2 separate regions of the Homo sapiens genome follow, and region 2 is linked to region 1. Evidence: fine-mapped expression QTL. Tissue or cell type: fibroblasts. Region 1 holds a variant in brackets; the other region holds the start of a gene. All regions are shown on one strand. Distances are between the middles of the regions.

Region 1 (8,103 bases):
ACCATGTTTGTAAAGCCTATAGTAGTGGATAGTAATGTCCTGGGTCTTCACATTCTCTCACCACTCACTGACTCACCCAGAGCAACTTCTAGCCTGCAAGATCCATTCACGGTAAGTGCCTGTGCAGATGGACCATTTTTTATGTTTTACACTGTATTTTTGCTGTACCTTTTCTATGCTTAGAAATGTTTAGATACACAAACCCTTACCTTTGTGTTACAATTGCCTGCAGAATTCAGTACGGTACAGTATAGGATTCCCAGGCCGTACAGGTTTGTAGCTTAGGAGCAGTAGGCTGTACCATACAGCCTAGGTTTACAGTAGGTGACACCATCTGGGTTTGTGAAATCACACTCCGTGATGTTTGCACACTGATGAAATTGTCTGGGCTGGGCACCATGGCTGGCTCACACCTGTACTCCCAGCACTTTGGAGGCCAAAGTGGGAGGACCACTTGAGGCCAGGAGTTCAAGCCCAGTCTGGGCAACATAGCGAGACTTAGTCTTTACAAAAAAATGAAAAAAAAATCAGCCAGGTGTGGTGGTGCACCCCTGTAGTCCCAGTTACTCAGCCAGCTGAGGTGGAAGGATCGCTTGAGCCCAGGAGTTCAAGGCAGCAGTGAGCTGTGATCGTGCTACTGCCCTGCAGCCTGAGTGACAGAATGAGACTCTCTTAAAAAAACAGGAAAAAAATTGCCCAGCAATGCATTTCTCAGGACATATCCTCGTCGTTAAGCGACACATGACTATATTTGTTAGAGGACCTGTACGATTGTTCACGTCATCATTATAATCATCATAATGATTAAACATCATTACTATGTAATGACCCTCGCTAGGGACTGAAGTCAAACGATTCCCCTTTCCCTGCTTTCTAAATTCAAGTCTCCATCCACTCCTGCTGCTGTTCCTCCGGGGTGGAGGCTCGTTCACCACTGCGGGGTGGAGGCTCGTTCACCACTGCGGGGTGGAGGAGGTTTCCATCTCTGGAACAGAGATGTGTAATTGTGAGGCGCGTGCAGGCCCAGCCTCGGTGAGTCTCTGCAGCCTAGCAACTTGCAGCGGCAGCAGCAGCCTGTGGTTTCATAAACAGAGGTGCTCTGGTGTTTAGGGAGCAGGTCATTAGCCAGGCCTAGCAAAGAGGCAAAGCTTTAAGGAGAAAGCTCCAACCACAGAATGAAATATACTCCATTCCTCTGACACAGGAACAGAAAGGCGATGAAGCAAAGCACGACAAAGACCATCAAGGCCACCTCCCTCCTTTTACAGAAAAGAAAGCTACAATTCAATAGCTGCCCAGCCACTTAGCAGAGTTGTGGCCAGAACTCAGCTCTCCCGATTGGGGAACCGGGGCTTCCGGACTCCACACATGTCATAATGCTGATAGTTTGAAATCAGCTCTAATGGGAATATTTACACTATGGAAATTGGCAAGTGCTATACGTCAGGCCCCTCCCCTCTTCCCCACCCAGAGCTGGTTGATAAGCATTCAGCAACACGCAGCTGGTGGAACTCAGTGAGGTCCCAAATTATTAGCATTTTCTAAATGCAGAAAGTCTGGATGACCCAGTGGCTTGGAATAAAGTTGGGATCCTTCTACACACAGGCTCGGTACATTCTTAGGTCAGGGATCTAGAAGGCTGCCCAGACTTCTTCCCCTGTACTCTCCACATGTGGAGTGATTCCACCTGTTCAGCATCTGAACACCCTCCTAGTTCTGGGTGAGCCTTTGTGGGTGGAGGCAGCCCCTCCCCACCCCGCTACCGGAGCTAAAGGGGGTCTGTCTCTCTCTTCACTGGGGGCCCAGTTAAGTCCTGGGAATGGGTTCCAACCTTAGGTGTGGATGGTGGATGGTCTAGCCGGTTGATTTTTTAAAATAATGGTTCTATTAAGATATAATTCATGCAGCATAAAATTCACCCTTTTAAAGTGTATAATTCAGTGGGTTTTAGTATATTCACGGAGTTGTGCAACTGTCACCACAATCAATTTTAGAACATTTCATCATCCATAAAAGAAACCCTGTACCCATTAAACAGTCACATTAAACAGTCACTCTCTGTCCCCTCCCCACGGTCCCTGGTAACCACTAGTCTATATGGTTTCACGTAAATTAAGGATGTTTCACATGAATTGAGTCATACAATATGTGGCCTTTTAGGTCTGGCTTCTTTTGCTCAGCATGTTCTCAAAGATCATCTATCCGGTAGCATGCATTAATACATAATTTCTTCTTATAGCTAAATAATATTCCACTGTATAGATATACCACAATTTGTTTTTTCATTCTTTTGTTGATGGTTATGGGGTTGTTTCTACCTTTTGTTTTTCTTTTTTTTTTTTTTTTGAGATGGAGTCTCGCTCTGTCGCCCAGGCTGGAGTGCAATGGCATGATCTCAACTCACTGAAACCTCCGCCTCCCGAGTTCAAGCCATTCTCATGCCTCAGCCTTCCAAGTATCTGGGATTACAGGCACGAGCCACCATGCCCAGCTAATTTTTGTATTTTTAGTAGAGATGGGGTTTCACCATGTTGGCCGGGCTGGTCTCAAACACCTGATCTTAGGTGATCCACCTGCCTCTGCCTCCCAAAGTGCTGGGATTACGGGCGTGAGCCACCATGCCCTGCCTTGGTTTTGTTTTGTTTTGTTTTGTTTTGTTTTTTTCAAGAGATGAGGTCTCACTTGCCCAGGCTGGTCTCAAAGTTTCGAACTACTGGATTCAAGTAATTCTCCCACCCTCGCATCCCAAAGTGCTGGGATCTGTGATCTGTGGCATGAGCCATCGTGCCTGGTCTTACCTTACCTTTTAGCTACTATGATTCATGTTGCTGTGAACACTAATGTACATAATGGTCTTTATGTGTGGATGTATATTTTCCCTTCTCTTGGCCACATACCTAGGAAGGGAATTGCTGGGTCATATGGTAATTCTATATTTAACATTTTGAGGAACTGCCAAGCTACTTTCCAAAGCAGCTGCACCCTTTTACACTTCCACCGGCAATGTGGCAACTGCTCCGCATCCTCG[C/T]CAGCACTTGTTATTGTCTTTTTAAATTTTTAGCTATCCTAGTGGAGGTCAAGCGGGATCTTACTGTGGGATTGATTTTGACTTTGAGGTTTGAGGAAGGTAGGGACAATGGAGAAATGACTCACAGCAGACGTGGCCATTGGAAATCTTAACGAGATTGGAGGATCAAGTGCTCAGGGGTGGCAGCACCACTGGGACGTCCTGGCATCCTTTGGTTCCCACTCATCTCCAGGGCTTGCTTCTCCAGTGTCTCCATTGATTCTGTGAGTTGCCTGGTAGCTTTGAAATCAAGTCCTTTTCCACTTAAGCTAAGCAGAGTCAATTTCTATTACTGCAAACCAAAGATCATGATTGACACCAAATTGAAGCTGTCCCTCTCTCCTTCTCCTTCTTTGAGACAGAGTCTCACTCTGCTGCCCAGGCTGAAGTGCAGGGGTGCAAAACAGCTCACTGCACCTCAACTTCTCCAGGCTGAAGTGATCCTCCCACCTCAGCCTCTGGAGTAGCTGGGACCACAGCCTTGTGCCACCATGCCCAGCTAAATTTTGTTTTTATTTATTTATTTTTTTGAGATGGAGTCTTGCTCTGTCCCCCAGGCTGGAGTGCAGTGGCACAATCTTGGCTCACCAACCTCCACCTCCTGAGTTCAAGCAATTCTCCTGCCTCAGCTGCTTGAGTAGCTGGGATTACAGGTGCGTGCTAACATGTCCTGCTAATTTTTGTATTTTTAGTAAAGATGGGGTTTCACCATGTTGGCCAGGCTGGTCTCAAACTTCTGACCTCAGGTGATCCGCCCACCTTGACCTCCCAAAGTGCTGGGATTACAGGTGTGATCCACTGGGCCTAGCCTAAATTTTGTATTTTTAATAAAAATGGGGTTTCACCATATTGCCCAGGCTGGTCTCAAACTCCTAGGCCAAAACGATCCTCCTGCCTTGACCTCCCAAAGTGTTGGGATTACAGGCATGAGCCATGTTGCCCAGCTGATTTCATTTTTAAAAACTTGAAATCCCTGGAAATCTCAAAAGGATGAAAAAGTGCCAACTTAAGGACTTAAAGTAGGTGGGGCTGAAACCCACTGTGAGCCATTCAATCTGTGGCTGGTGTCATAGGAAGGAACACACTGACTTTGGGGCTAGTCTTTCCTGGGACCCTCTGAGTGACCGCCTATCCCACATCAGGACCCTGGAATATGAAGAAATGAGAAGTGGCCAGATCTTCCACTTGGAACACTTGACCAGCCTCCATTCTTCCTACCCACTTCATTTTTTCCTTTTTAAATTTAATAGAGTCGGGGTCTTGCTGTGTTGCCCAGGCTGGTATTGAACTCCTGGCTTCGAGCAATCTTCCCACCTCAGCCTCCCAAAGTGCTGGGATTACAGGTGTGAGCTGCTGCACCCCGCCACCTACCCACTTCCCATATGAAACATTCCTACTCAGGCTCATGAGGAAGAATCATACACTGGCAGTGGTAAAGGAACACTAGAGGTCATTCTAGATGCCTTGTCTTGAGCCTGCAGCATTCCCCAGGGTTGACCATGGAAAGCTTTGGTTCACTGAATGCATCTGGCTCTTCCGCAGCTCCCAGCTTTGGCTCACTTGGCTCCCTCTGGAACATTCTCCCCTCTCTGACCACTTCATCTAAACCTGCCCCCCTCTAGGGATTCCCTCTCACAGGGGCCGGGCTTTTCCCTCGTAGCTCTGAGCACCGTTTGCAAGTTTACATTAATGTGTTTGTTTAACATGAGCCCCCTAAAGACAACAGCCACTCTCTTGTTCACTCCAGATAGGCAGCCCTCACACAGGGCCCAGCACACAGTCAGCGTTTGTTGAATTCGTGAGTGGGTAATAAATGAAGTCCATCTCTCTCAGGTTTTTTTTTTCTTCTTTTTAGATGAAGTCTGGCTCTGTCACCCAGGCTGGAGTGCAGTGGCGCCATCTCGGCTCACTGCAATCTTTGCTTCCCAGGTTCAAGCGATTAACCTGTCTCAGCCTCCCAAGTAGCTGGGATTACAGGAGCGCGCCACCACAACCGGCTAATTTTTGTATTTTTAATAGAGACGGGGTTTTGCCATGTTGGTCAGGCTGATCTCAAACTTCTGACTTCAGGTGATCTGCCCACTTTGGCCTCCTAAAGTGCTGGGGCTACAGCCACTTCTTCCAGCCCCATCTCGCTCAGATTATAAAGGAAGAAATGAGATGCTTCCAGGGGAGGGGGGACGGCAGCCACCCTCGCATCCAGGAGGCATGTGCCCCACTCCCCCCATCCCCTCGCGGGTGCAGGGACAGCCGTGGTCCAGGCCCAGGGGACTACCCACTAAGCCTTCTCCAGGGCAGCCAGTCTGGCCGGTGGGCTGGGGGTGGTGCAGTCTGCAGCACATCCAGGTGGCGTGAAGTGCTCACTGGAGCCTGCCCTTGCTGTGGTCATGAAACTTGCTCCCCTCAAAAAACTCCACCAGCTTTAAAGATATGCAGCTTTAAAAAGATATGCAAAAATAAATACTATATTTACACTGATGTGTTTTATGACTTCCAATCAAAACAACAAGAGGACATGGGGAGGGGGCCTCAGACGATGGTCCGAGCCCTTTTTTTGTTGTTTTTGTTTTTTGAGACAGAGTCTCGCTCTGTCGCCCAGGCTGGAGTGCAGTGGCGCGATCTCGGCTCACTGCAAGCTCCGCCTCTCAGGTTGATGCCATTCTCCTGCCTCAGCCTCCCGAGTAGCTGGGACTACAGGTGCCTGCTACCACGCCCTGCTAAATTTTTTGTATTTTTTTTTTTTTTAGTAGAGATGGGGTTTCACCGTGTTGGCTAGGATGGGCTCGATCTCCTGACCTCGTGATCCGCCCGCCTCGGCCTCCCAAAGTGCTGGGATTACAGGCGTGAGCCACCGTGCCCAGCCATGGTCCAAGCCCTTTTGAGGCGGGGCAGCTTCAGTATTGACGCCCCCACCCTTGCCTCACGGCATCACTTGCAATTTCACACTCTCAGGGAGGGCAGTGATGCCAGTGCTGGACGACTTTCCTGGGGCTGATGCCTCACGCCTGGGCACTGATAAATGTGAGTCCGCCTTGGCATCAGTGCACTCGGGAGAACACCAGCTTCGGGGCACCGAGACCCGCAGCTCACTGTCCCACCAGTCAGCATCTCGCTGCCGCTGAACAGTGTTGGATCAACCGGCTTTTCTTTTTTTTTTTTTAATATTCCTTCCAGCTAAGCTAGCAGAGGGCGGTTACATGACATATGAGCAGGGTGGCAACTACTGTCAACTCCCAGCGCCTGGCATCTATTTATTACAGTCAATTTGGAAATAGCTGCCCGCAAGGGAACTGCTGGCCAAATCCCTAAAGAACATGCTCAAGCCGAAAACACCAGTGTCTCAGGCAGCCACAGCTTGAGGACACAGATGTTTAAAAAAAGACCTTTTTGTTTGCATCACCTCGAAGCACAGCAGAAGGCCAGGTCTGCACAGGCCAGGCAGCCAGTGAGGGGACCAGGTGCTGTGGCGCCGGCAGGAGAATCTGCTCAAGAATTGAAAGCACAGAGCAGATAGTGGAAATAATTCAGGGGTGACTGAGTCAGAAAGGTGGTACAGATTTCATTTTTTAAAAACTTTATGGCCGGGCGCGGTGGCTCACGCCTGTAATCCCAGCACTTTGGGAGGCCGAAGCTGGCGGATCATGAGGTCAAGAGATCGAGACCATCCTGGCTAACATGGTGAAACCCCATCTCTACTAAAAATATAAAAAATTAGCCGGGCATAGTGGCAGGCGTCTGTAGTCCCAGCTGGCTGAGGCAGGAGAATGGCAAGAACCCGGGAGGCGGAGGTTGCAGTGAGCCAAGATCACGCCACTGCACTCCAGCCTAGGTGACAGAGCGAGACTCCATCTCAAAAAATAAAAATAAAAATAAAAATAAATAAAAACTTTATGTTGAAATAATTTTAGGCTTGCCAAGATAGTGCCATGATCCCTAGACCCTTCACCCAGTTTCCCTAATGTGAACATCTTACACAACTGTGATACACTGAGCAAAACTCAGAAATTTTGTTTTGAGATAGGATCTCACTCTGTCACCCAGGCTGGAGTGCAGTGGCACGATCACGGCTCACTACGGCCTCAACCTCCCAGGCTCAAGTGATCCTCTGGCCTCAGCCTCCTGACTAGCTGAGACCACAGGCATGCTCCACCATGTCCAGCTAATTTTAAAAAAATGTTTTGTAGAGACGGGGTCTCCCTATGTTGCCCAGGCAGATTTTGAACTCCTGGGCTCAAGTGATCCTCCCAGCTCGGCTGCCCAAAGTGCTGGGATTACAGGTGTAAGCCACTGCGCACCGCCCAAAACTCAGAAATTAATATTGGTGCAACACTGTTAACTAAACCACAGACTTTAGCTGGATTTCACCAGTTTTTCCACTGATGTCCTTTTTCTGTTTCAGGAACGGATCCAGGTGTCCACACTGCATTTAGTTGTCATGGTTCCGTCTCTTCTGGTCTGTGAGAGTTTCTCCATCTTTCCTTGTCTGTCATGACTTTGACATTTTTTGAAGAGTGCCGGTCAGGTGTTTGGTACAGATTTGTAGTATTTGTGGAAATCTGCTGGAATGAGTACCCTTGGCCTACGAGGCAGAGTCGGGGGTGGTGAGCTACACCCTGTGGGACAAATCTAGGCTGCTGCCTGTGTTTGCAGGTCTCCGAGCTAAGAATGGGTTTCACATTTTTAAATGGTTGAAAAAAAAACAAAAGACAAATAATAGTCCATGATATGTGGAAATTATCATGAAATCCAAATGTCAGTGTCCATAGGTGAAGTGGGGCTGGGAGGCAGCCACGGGCATTCTTTTCTGTGTTGTCCCTGGGGGCTTTTGCACTACAATGGCAGGATTGGGAAGTCACTACGGAGGCCCTTTGGCCCCAAGAGCCTCAATATTTACTCCCTGGCCCTTGACAGGGGAGGTTTGCCCAGCCTGATGAGGGCCCTATAAGGACCTGCCATTGGCCTTCATTCCAAAGCTAAGTCAGCTATGAAAAGAGCATGGAGTGGCTAGGCACAGTGGCTCACGCCTGTAATCTCAA
Region 2 (8,103 bases), 94 kb after region 1:
GCACTCCAGCCTGGGCAACAGTGAGACTCTGTCTCAAAAAAAAAAAAAAAGGAATGGATTGTACCTTATTTGGTTTTGTGTTCCCATAGTCTGGCCTATACTAAGCATTCAACTAATGATTCTGAATGAATTGATGAATGAATTAAGATGACTACTTACTGGGAAAATTCCTGATGTGATTGACTGGGAATCAGTAATCTGTGTCTCCAAACGGATCATGGACGCTGTGACTTCTTGGGGCTCTACTGTGGTTTCTTCCTGTATTCCTGAAGCCTCCTTCTCTTGGACTTCTCCAGCCTTTTCCTCAGTTTCTTCCATGACAATCTTTTTGTCCTCCTTCCCCTCCTCCTCCCCTTCCTCCTCGCCCGTTTTCCTCTCCTCCTCCTGAGACTCTCTCCATGCTATTGTGTCATCTTTTGATTCCTGTTGTGGATCTTCTACTTCTTTATAATTTGGATTAGGTTCCTCCTCTTCTTTCATTTCTGTTTCTCCATTTTCTCCTGTTGCTTCTCGGGGAGCTTCTGCTGCATCTGACATTCTTCTCTGTAGAGTTTCCTCTAGAGAGATTTTGACCATAATAACCAGCTGGCCCTCAGCTTCCCATTTCCATCTCCTAGTGCACTAACCTACTGATGAAATGTGCATAAATGGCTCTGTTCCCTTTCCATAGGAATAAAAAGAATGTCATGTTTCTGACCAGGCACGGTGGCTCATGCCTGTAATCCCAGCACTATGGGAGGCCAATGCAGATGGATCACCTGAGGTCAGGAGTTTGAGACCAGCCTGGCCAACATGATGAAACCCCGTTTCTACTAAAAATACAAAAATTAGCTGGGTGTGGTGGCAGGCGCCTGTAATCCCAGCTACTTGGGAGGCTGAGGCAGGAGAATCGCTTGAACCTGGGAGGCAGAGGTTGCAGTGAGCCAAGATCATACCATTGCACTCCAGCCTGGGTAACAAGAGCAAAGTTCTGTCTCAAAAATAAAAACAAAAAAAGAATGTCATATTTCTGGCCAGGCACAGTGGCTCACGCCTGTAATCCCAACACTTTGGGAGGCTGAGGCGGGAGGATCAGTTGAGGTCAGGAGTTTGAGACCAGCCTGGCCAACATGGTGAAACCCCATCTCTACTAAAAATACAAAAAGTTGGCCGGGCGTGGTGGCTCACGCCTGTAATCCCAGCACTTTGGGAGGCTGACGCGGGTGGATCACGAGGTCAGGAGATCGAGACCATCCTGGCTAACACGGTGAAACCCCGTCTCTACTAAAAATACAAAAAATTAGCCGGGCTTGGCGGTGGGCGCCTGTAGTCCCAGCTACTCGGGAGGCTGAGGCAGGAGAATGGTGTGAACCCGGGAGGCGGAGCTTGCAGTGAGCCGAGATCGTGCCACTGCACTCCAGCCTGGGCAACACAGCGAGACTCCGTCTCAAAAAAAAAAAAAAAATACAAAAAGCCTGGTGTGGTGGTGGTGCCTGTAATCTGAGCTACTCAGAAGGCCGAGGCAGGAGAATAGCTTGAATCTGGGAGGCGGAGGTTGCAGCGAGCCAAGATCATGCCACTGCAGTCCAGCCTGGGCAACAGAGCGAGACCCTCTCTCAAAAAAAAAAAAAAAAAAAAAAAGTCACATTTGTGGGAAACCTTTTTTTTTTTTTTCTCTTGAGACAGAGTTTTGTTCTTGTTGCCCAGGCTGGAGTGCAGTGGCACGATCTTGGCTCACTGCAATTACTGCCTCCAGGGTTCAAGCTATTCTCCTGCCTCAGCCTCCCGAGCAGCTGGGATTACAGGCGTCTGCCACCACACCCAGCTAATTTTTGTATTTTTTCAATGGAGGCAGGGTTTCACCATTTTGGCCAGTCTGGTCTTAAACTCCTGACCTCAAGTGATCCGCCCGCCTTGGCTTCCCAAAGTGCTGGGATTACAGGCGTGAGCCATCACGCGCAGCTGGGAAATCTTAAAGTATATGTATTTGTGGCCCAGATCTTAAAAATACTGATCCAGGGCCTGTCAACTTTCTGGGAATAAACACCTTGTAGCCTTTTTACTCATTTAAAATATATTTATATTCCCACAGGCAGCAAAATGCATAACCCACATATTAGCAACAATTCTAGAAACAGGAATACGAGAAGAAGCAGGGTAGCCTAGTGGTTAAAAGCAAGGGCCTTGCTGTCAGCTTGTCCTAGCATTGAATCCCATTTCCACCACGTACTTGCTCTGTGACCTTGGGCAAGTCACTTTACCCCTCAGAGTCTGCATTTTCTCATGGGCAAAATGAAAAGAATAATCCTAAATTCTAGGGTTGTTGTAGAGAAGTGATAACATATATAAAATGCTCATCACAATTCTGGCACATACAGCTTGAAAAAATGGTAGCAGTTGTTATTATTTGAGAGAAAAGCAACCCTAATGTGCAAAGAAATGAACAGTTTGAAAGCCTTCTGGCATATTCTCCATTTATTCCTTACAACAAACAAGAGTTTGAACTAGGAAAACAATAAGGATGGATACTTTATCCCTAAAGAGTTGGACCCCGAACAAAAAAAATCCCTACATTTTCAGTGACATTAGAATAAGAGAACTCAACACTTTGAAAATAAAGTCCCAGAGAGTACAGAGTAGAAAAGGTATTTCTATTTCTTAATTTCTTTCTCAGCACTAAATGTATCAGCTCCTCAAATTCATCTCTGGTAAAAAAAAAATAATAATAATAATAATAAATAAATAATGAATGGATAAATGAGTTTGAGGCTCTGAGAGGTGAAGTGACTTATTCAAGATGACACCGCTAGTAAGAACGAGATTTCTCTGGCACTTAGTTTCTCCAGCTGAAAAATCACTGCTCTGAATCAAGTCTAGGGCTCTCACCACCGAGCCTCTTTTGACTGAGCCCAACTTCGCCGGCGCGTCTGGACAGCCGGGTTCGAGCCGCAGGGGTTTGGGGCAGGGGTGCCAGGTGCGTGGCTCTGCGAGGGGATTAAAGCCCAGGTGCGGCCTCTGCCTCCAACTCAGGTCTCCCTGGGGCCGCCCCAGGCCCCACAAGGGCCAGGTCGGGTGAGCGCCCCCCAAGGGGCACCAGACCCCGCCAGGTCGGGGGCCCCCTCGCCAGGGCCGCGTGGCCTCCGCCCCGGACTTACAGAGAGCACCCACCCCGGTCTTCAAAAGGCCAGAGTCGTCCCGCCGCCTGGACCCCTCAGCCACCTCCCGGGCCTCCTTCCAGCGGCCGCCACCTTCTCCACCAGCTCCCTAGTTCTGGTTGCCACCCAAGCTCCGTCCCCATGGCAACCGCCACCGCCGGAAGCGACAGGCCCTAAAGCGACAGGGCAGGGCGGTGGTCACGTGCCAGGAAACGGTGACGAGCGTGCCCGACGTGCCTCCTGCCGGTCGCTGGCGGCATAGACTTTCCTCGCTTTTCTGTCCTTCCTCCGCTCGCACGATCCCACCTTTTCACATGGTCCCGTCCCCTAAGAAGCTGCAGCGGCCAATACTGCCAATTTTTACTTTCCGCAACCTTGGCAAGATGGGGTGGAGAAGTATGAACTCGGATACAATGCTCTTTTCCAAAAGCAAACTGAATTTCCAGGTCTCATGGATGCAGCACACAACCGTCCTGCCTGCCTCCTCACCGGGCACCGCGTGTTGCAGACAATTCCAGCTGGCTGGGGGCAGATATGACACAGGGTGCACCAGCTTGCGGTTCTCAGCACAAAGCGTTTCCGCAAAACCGGTCTGGCTATATCTATTAGGATCATTCCACGTCAAAGTGGCTCTCCACTAACATCTCATGGAAGACGGCAACAGGTGGCCACACGGGTTTCCACTGGGACCCCTGCAGGAAACCAGCCAGAGCCACTGAGGCAGAAGGCTCTCTGCTGCTGTCATTTTAGGAGAATGTGAATAATTCTCCCCGCCCACACTGCCATGCCCCAGTGATGGTAAATTGATTAATATGCATACATCTTAAAATAAAAAAGAAAGGATAAACTGGGCAAGCTGTGTTTATTATAGTCTGAGACTTTATAAAAGAGACTGGAAAATACGTGGAATTAGAACATGCAATTTAAACAGCAAACATTGGTAAACACAGCATGTCTGTGGCTACCAGAGGGGAATACGTATGGCTGTCAGGTCAAATAGAGTTTGAGGGAATTCGCCCAATAGGAAGGCTTTGGAATTGAGTGTGAGAACCTGTGGCTGGAAGCACACAGCAATACCAATCCCATCAAGGCAAGCTGGTATCTGTATCCAACCACAGCAAAACCAGTCCCAAGGAACACAGGGCTTGCCTGGCAGAACTGCCAAAACAGAAAGCGGTGTGCAAGAACTGGGGAAATGAACACTGATACCATGGAGAGGAAAAAATAATTCAAAGTATTGGCAGGAATCCCTGAGAACCATTTTACCATCTTAAAAGAGACAAAAAATAAAAGGGAGGAAGAATAAGCATTTTCAAGAGGTCTGATCTACTCGTTCCTATCCATACCTCAGCGGTTTACAAAATAGCGCTGATCTCAGGGCATAGCCAGGAGGTTCAATTATAAAAAGTCAAACTAGCAGTGGGCTGGGCGCAGTGGCTCACGCCTGTGATCCCAGCACTTTAGGAGGCCAAGGCAGGAGGACTGCTTGAGCCCAGGAGTTCGAGACCAACCTGGTCAACACAGGGAGACCCTGTCTCTACAAAAAATAAATTAGCTATGCATGGTGGTGCACGCCTGTGGTCCCAGATACTTGGGCGGCTGAGGCAGTGCCCACAGCGTCAAGGCTTCAGTGAACCTTGATCACGACACTGCACTCCAGCCTGGGTGACAAAGCAAGACCTTGTCTCCAGAAAACAAAAACAAAAACACACAAAAACGGAGGGGTTCTTACTAGCGAAGTGAAAGGAGCTTGCTGCCCTCTGGTGGGTTCCTAAAGAGGAAGCTGACAGGACACCACGCTGGGCCACCTGGGAAGCCTCCAGGCTTTCCCTGTTCTCCAAAGGGAGCTACTATGGCCCTGACAGCCCAGCTGCTGAGGAAGCACAGTACTTAACCATTTCCGTATCCACAGCAGCAAGGCCTCAGTGCAAAGAAATATGTTGGTCAAAGCCTGACTTTGCAATTGCTAGCCTGTTTTGCCCAACTTTCTATGAAGCTCTTCTGACCCCATCTGAGCTTTGGTTTGGGAGGGTCATAAGAAATTCAGCTGGGGTGACAACAGGGTCATATCAGCACTGTAAAACTCTTTATTAAAAATAATAATAATAATCACACCAGTACCTGCCAGAATAACTTCCGCCCACTTGCCCACAATCCAGGGAATTCCTATTTAGGGCCGTGGCCTAATTTGTGAAAGAGGCCAAGCCTAAGTTTTTAAGAATGCCTTAATCCAGGGAGATTACACTGGTGGGCCACAGTACTGCCACCACACAGAAGTTCAGGTTACAAGCCTCTTCCAGATCCTTATGCTTCAGGGAGAGAAGACAAGTTGGAAATCCCTAGACCCAAGTCCAGGGCAAGGGAAGATGCTTTCCTGTTACTGTTCCCCAGGGACAATCATCTTTGCAGAGGAATAATGTTGCAGCTGGAAGAAAGAAGAAAAGGAATGGCGTAAGTTTGGAGGCTCCCTTCAGGAAGGTCAGAGGCTGAGCCCTTCTGACCTTTTCACCAATGTTCTTTCATTCTTTTAAAGCAAATGCCTAGTGCATGAATGAACTGGAGAGACTCCCAGGAGAGACTCTGGGGCTCCCTCTGCTTCTAGAGCTGTAGTCTCGTTCCTACCACGAGGATTTATCTGCAGTTTCCATGCAAACTGGGGATTCCCATTATTCCCCAATGTCTCCCCAGCCTTCCCCTCCAGCTTCATGTTTAACAAACACTCAAATGATGCCCCAGTGAGAATGAACAGAAACAGATACTTTACCCCAGCAGTCCTTTTCCTGCCCAGCGTGTTGGAACAAGTCTAAGCTGGTGTTTTTCCCCCCTGCGGATCACTGTCACATTCAGGGGCTTCTGAAAAGAAAATAAGCTCATTTCGTGTTCAGCCTCGTTAGTACTCAGAGATGCAGGCTAAAATGCTGAGATCCCATTTTTTGCCTATCAAATTGGTAAAGATTTACATTTGCAGCATAATCCTGTGGTTGGCGAGAGGGTGGGGAACGTGGCACTGCACTCTCAGGGCAGCCAGGGTGCTGACCTCAGTACCATCTTCCTCAAAAAACACGTGTCCCACCACCAACGATCTTTAAAAGGTACATCCAAGGTACATAGTACACAATTGCAAGATGACATACAAATTACAAGACATACAAATGCCTGTAATCCCAGCACTCTACAAAAAGTATAAAAATTAGCGAGACATACAAATGAAATGTTCATTCCAGGACTGTGTAGAAATTCAAAAACTGAAAACACCAGAAATGTCCATCAATAGGTATTGTTCAAATACAGTACAGAGAATGAAGGGTTTTAGTCAAAACAAACCAAAACCCCACCAAAGTATGAACCTATTTGATAATATTTTCTTTCTTTTTTTTTTTTTTTGAGACACAGTCTCACTCTGTCACCCAGGCTGGAGTGCAGTGGCACAATCTTGGCTCACTGCAACCTCTGCTTCCCAGGTTCTAGCAATTCTCATGCCCCAGCCTCCTGAGTAGCTGGGACTACAGGTGCCCGCCACCACACCCGCCTAATTTTAGTATTTTTAGTAGAGACAGGGTTTCGCCATGTTGGCCAGGCTGGTCTCAGAACTCCTGATCTCAGGTGATCCACCCACCTCAGCCTCCCAAAGTGCTGGGATTACAGGTGTGAGCCACCGTGCCCGGCCGATAATATTTTCTAAAAGGACACCTGTGTTGCTCTAGTGTGCGAAGTTTTCTGGAAGAACATGGAAAAACTTGTTAAGAGTGGTTACTTCCAGAGAGGACTAGTCCTTTGGAAAAAGAAGATGTTTACTTTTATATATTTCCATATCATTAATTTTTTAACCATGCGTATGTATTGCTTTATTTTTCTGAGACAGAGTCTTGCTCTGTTGCCCAGGCTGGAGTGTAGTGGTGCAATCTCAGCTCACCGCAACCTCAGCCTCCTAGGTTCAAGCAATTCTCGTGCCTCAGCCTCCTGAGTAGCTGGGACTACAGGCATGCAGCACCATGCTCAGCTAATGTTTCTGTATATTTAGTAGAGACAGGGTTTCACCATACTGGCCAGCCTGGTCTCAAACTCCTGGGCTCAAGTGATCTGCCCACCTCAGCATCCCAAAGTGCTGGGATTTTGGGCATGTGCCACCACACCTGGCATGTATGTATTACTTTCTTTTTTTTGAGATGGGTTCTCTGTCGCGCAGGCTGGAGTACAGTGGCACAATCTCGGCTCACTGCAACCTCCGCCTCCCCGGTTCAAGCAATTCTCCTGCCTCAGCCTCCTGAGCAACTGGGATTACAGGCACGTGCCACCATGCCCAGATAATTTTTGTATTTTTAATAGAGATGGGGTTTCGCCATGTTGGCCAGGCTGGTCTTGAACTCCTGATCTCAGGTGATCCACCCACCTCAGCCTCCCAAAGTGCTGGGATTACAGGCATGAGCCACCACACCCAGCCTGTATATAGTACTTTAATTTAAAAAATTAAAATTAAAGCAGGGGGAGTACATACCAAAAAAATTACAAATTAAAATACGATATCCAGGCACGGTGGCTCACGCCAGTAATCCCAGCACTTTGGGAGGCAGGAAGATCACTTGAGCCCAGGAGTTGAAGACCAGGCTGGGCATGGTGAAACCCTGACTCTACAAAAAGTATAAAAATTAGCGAGGCATGGTGGTGTGCACCTATAGTCCCAGCTACTCGGGAGGCTGAGGCAGGAGGATTGCTCAAGGGAGGTCAAGGCTGCAGTGAGCTGTGACTGCACCACTGCACTCCAGCCTGGGCAACAGAGTGAGACCCTGTCTCAAAAAAATAAAAATAAATAAATAAAACAAGATGCCATCAAAATCTAAAACTTCTATGTATCAAATGACACTATTAACAGAGTGAAAAGGCAACCCACATGATAGGAGAAAATACATACATGCTGGGTACGGTGGCTCATGCCTGTAATCCCAACACATTCAGAGGCCCAGGCAGGAGG

What was found. PIP is the estimated chance that this variant, and not a neighbour inherited with it, causes the effect.
Region 2: CFAP251 starts here. The variant in region 1 is fine-mapped to the expression of CFAP251 in fibroblasts (GTEx, PIP above 0.99).

The regions. Positions count from the first base shown.
Region 1 is chr12:122,007,298-122,015,400 of GRCh38, reverse strand. No RefSeq gene overlaps it. Among named protein-coding and RNA genes, the nearest start is that of BCL7A, 11 kb to the left of the region's middle. The variant C/T (reference allele first, on the strand shown) is at 3,029.
Region 2 is chr12:121,913,740-121,921,842 of GRCh38, reverse strand. It overlaps CFAP251 (cilia and flagella associated protein 251), which reads right to left and starts at 3,251. Exons shown (of 22, transcript NM_144668.6): 1 at 3,148-3,251; 2 at 160-557. The coding sequence starts at 537. It overlaps PSMD9 (proteasome 26S subunit, non-ATPase 9), which reads right to left. Exons shown (of 6, transcript NM_002813.7): 5 at 5,899-5,987; 6 at 3,546-5,559. The coding sequence ends at 5,532. RefSeq lists a silencer at 2,973-3,122.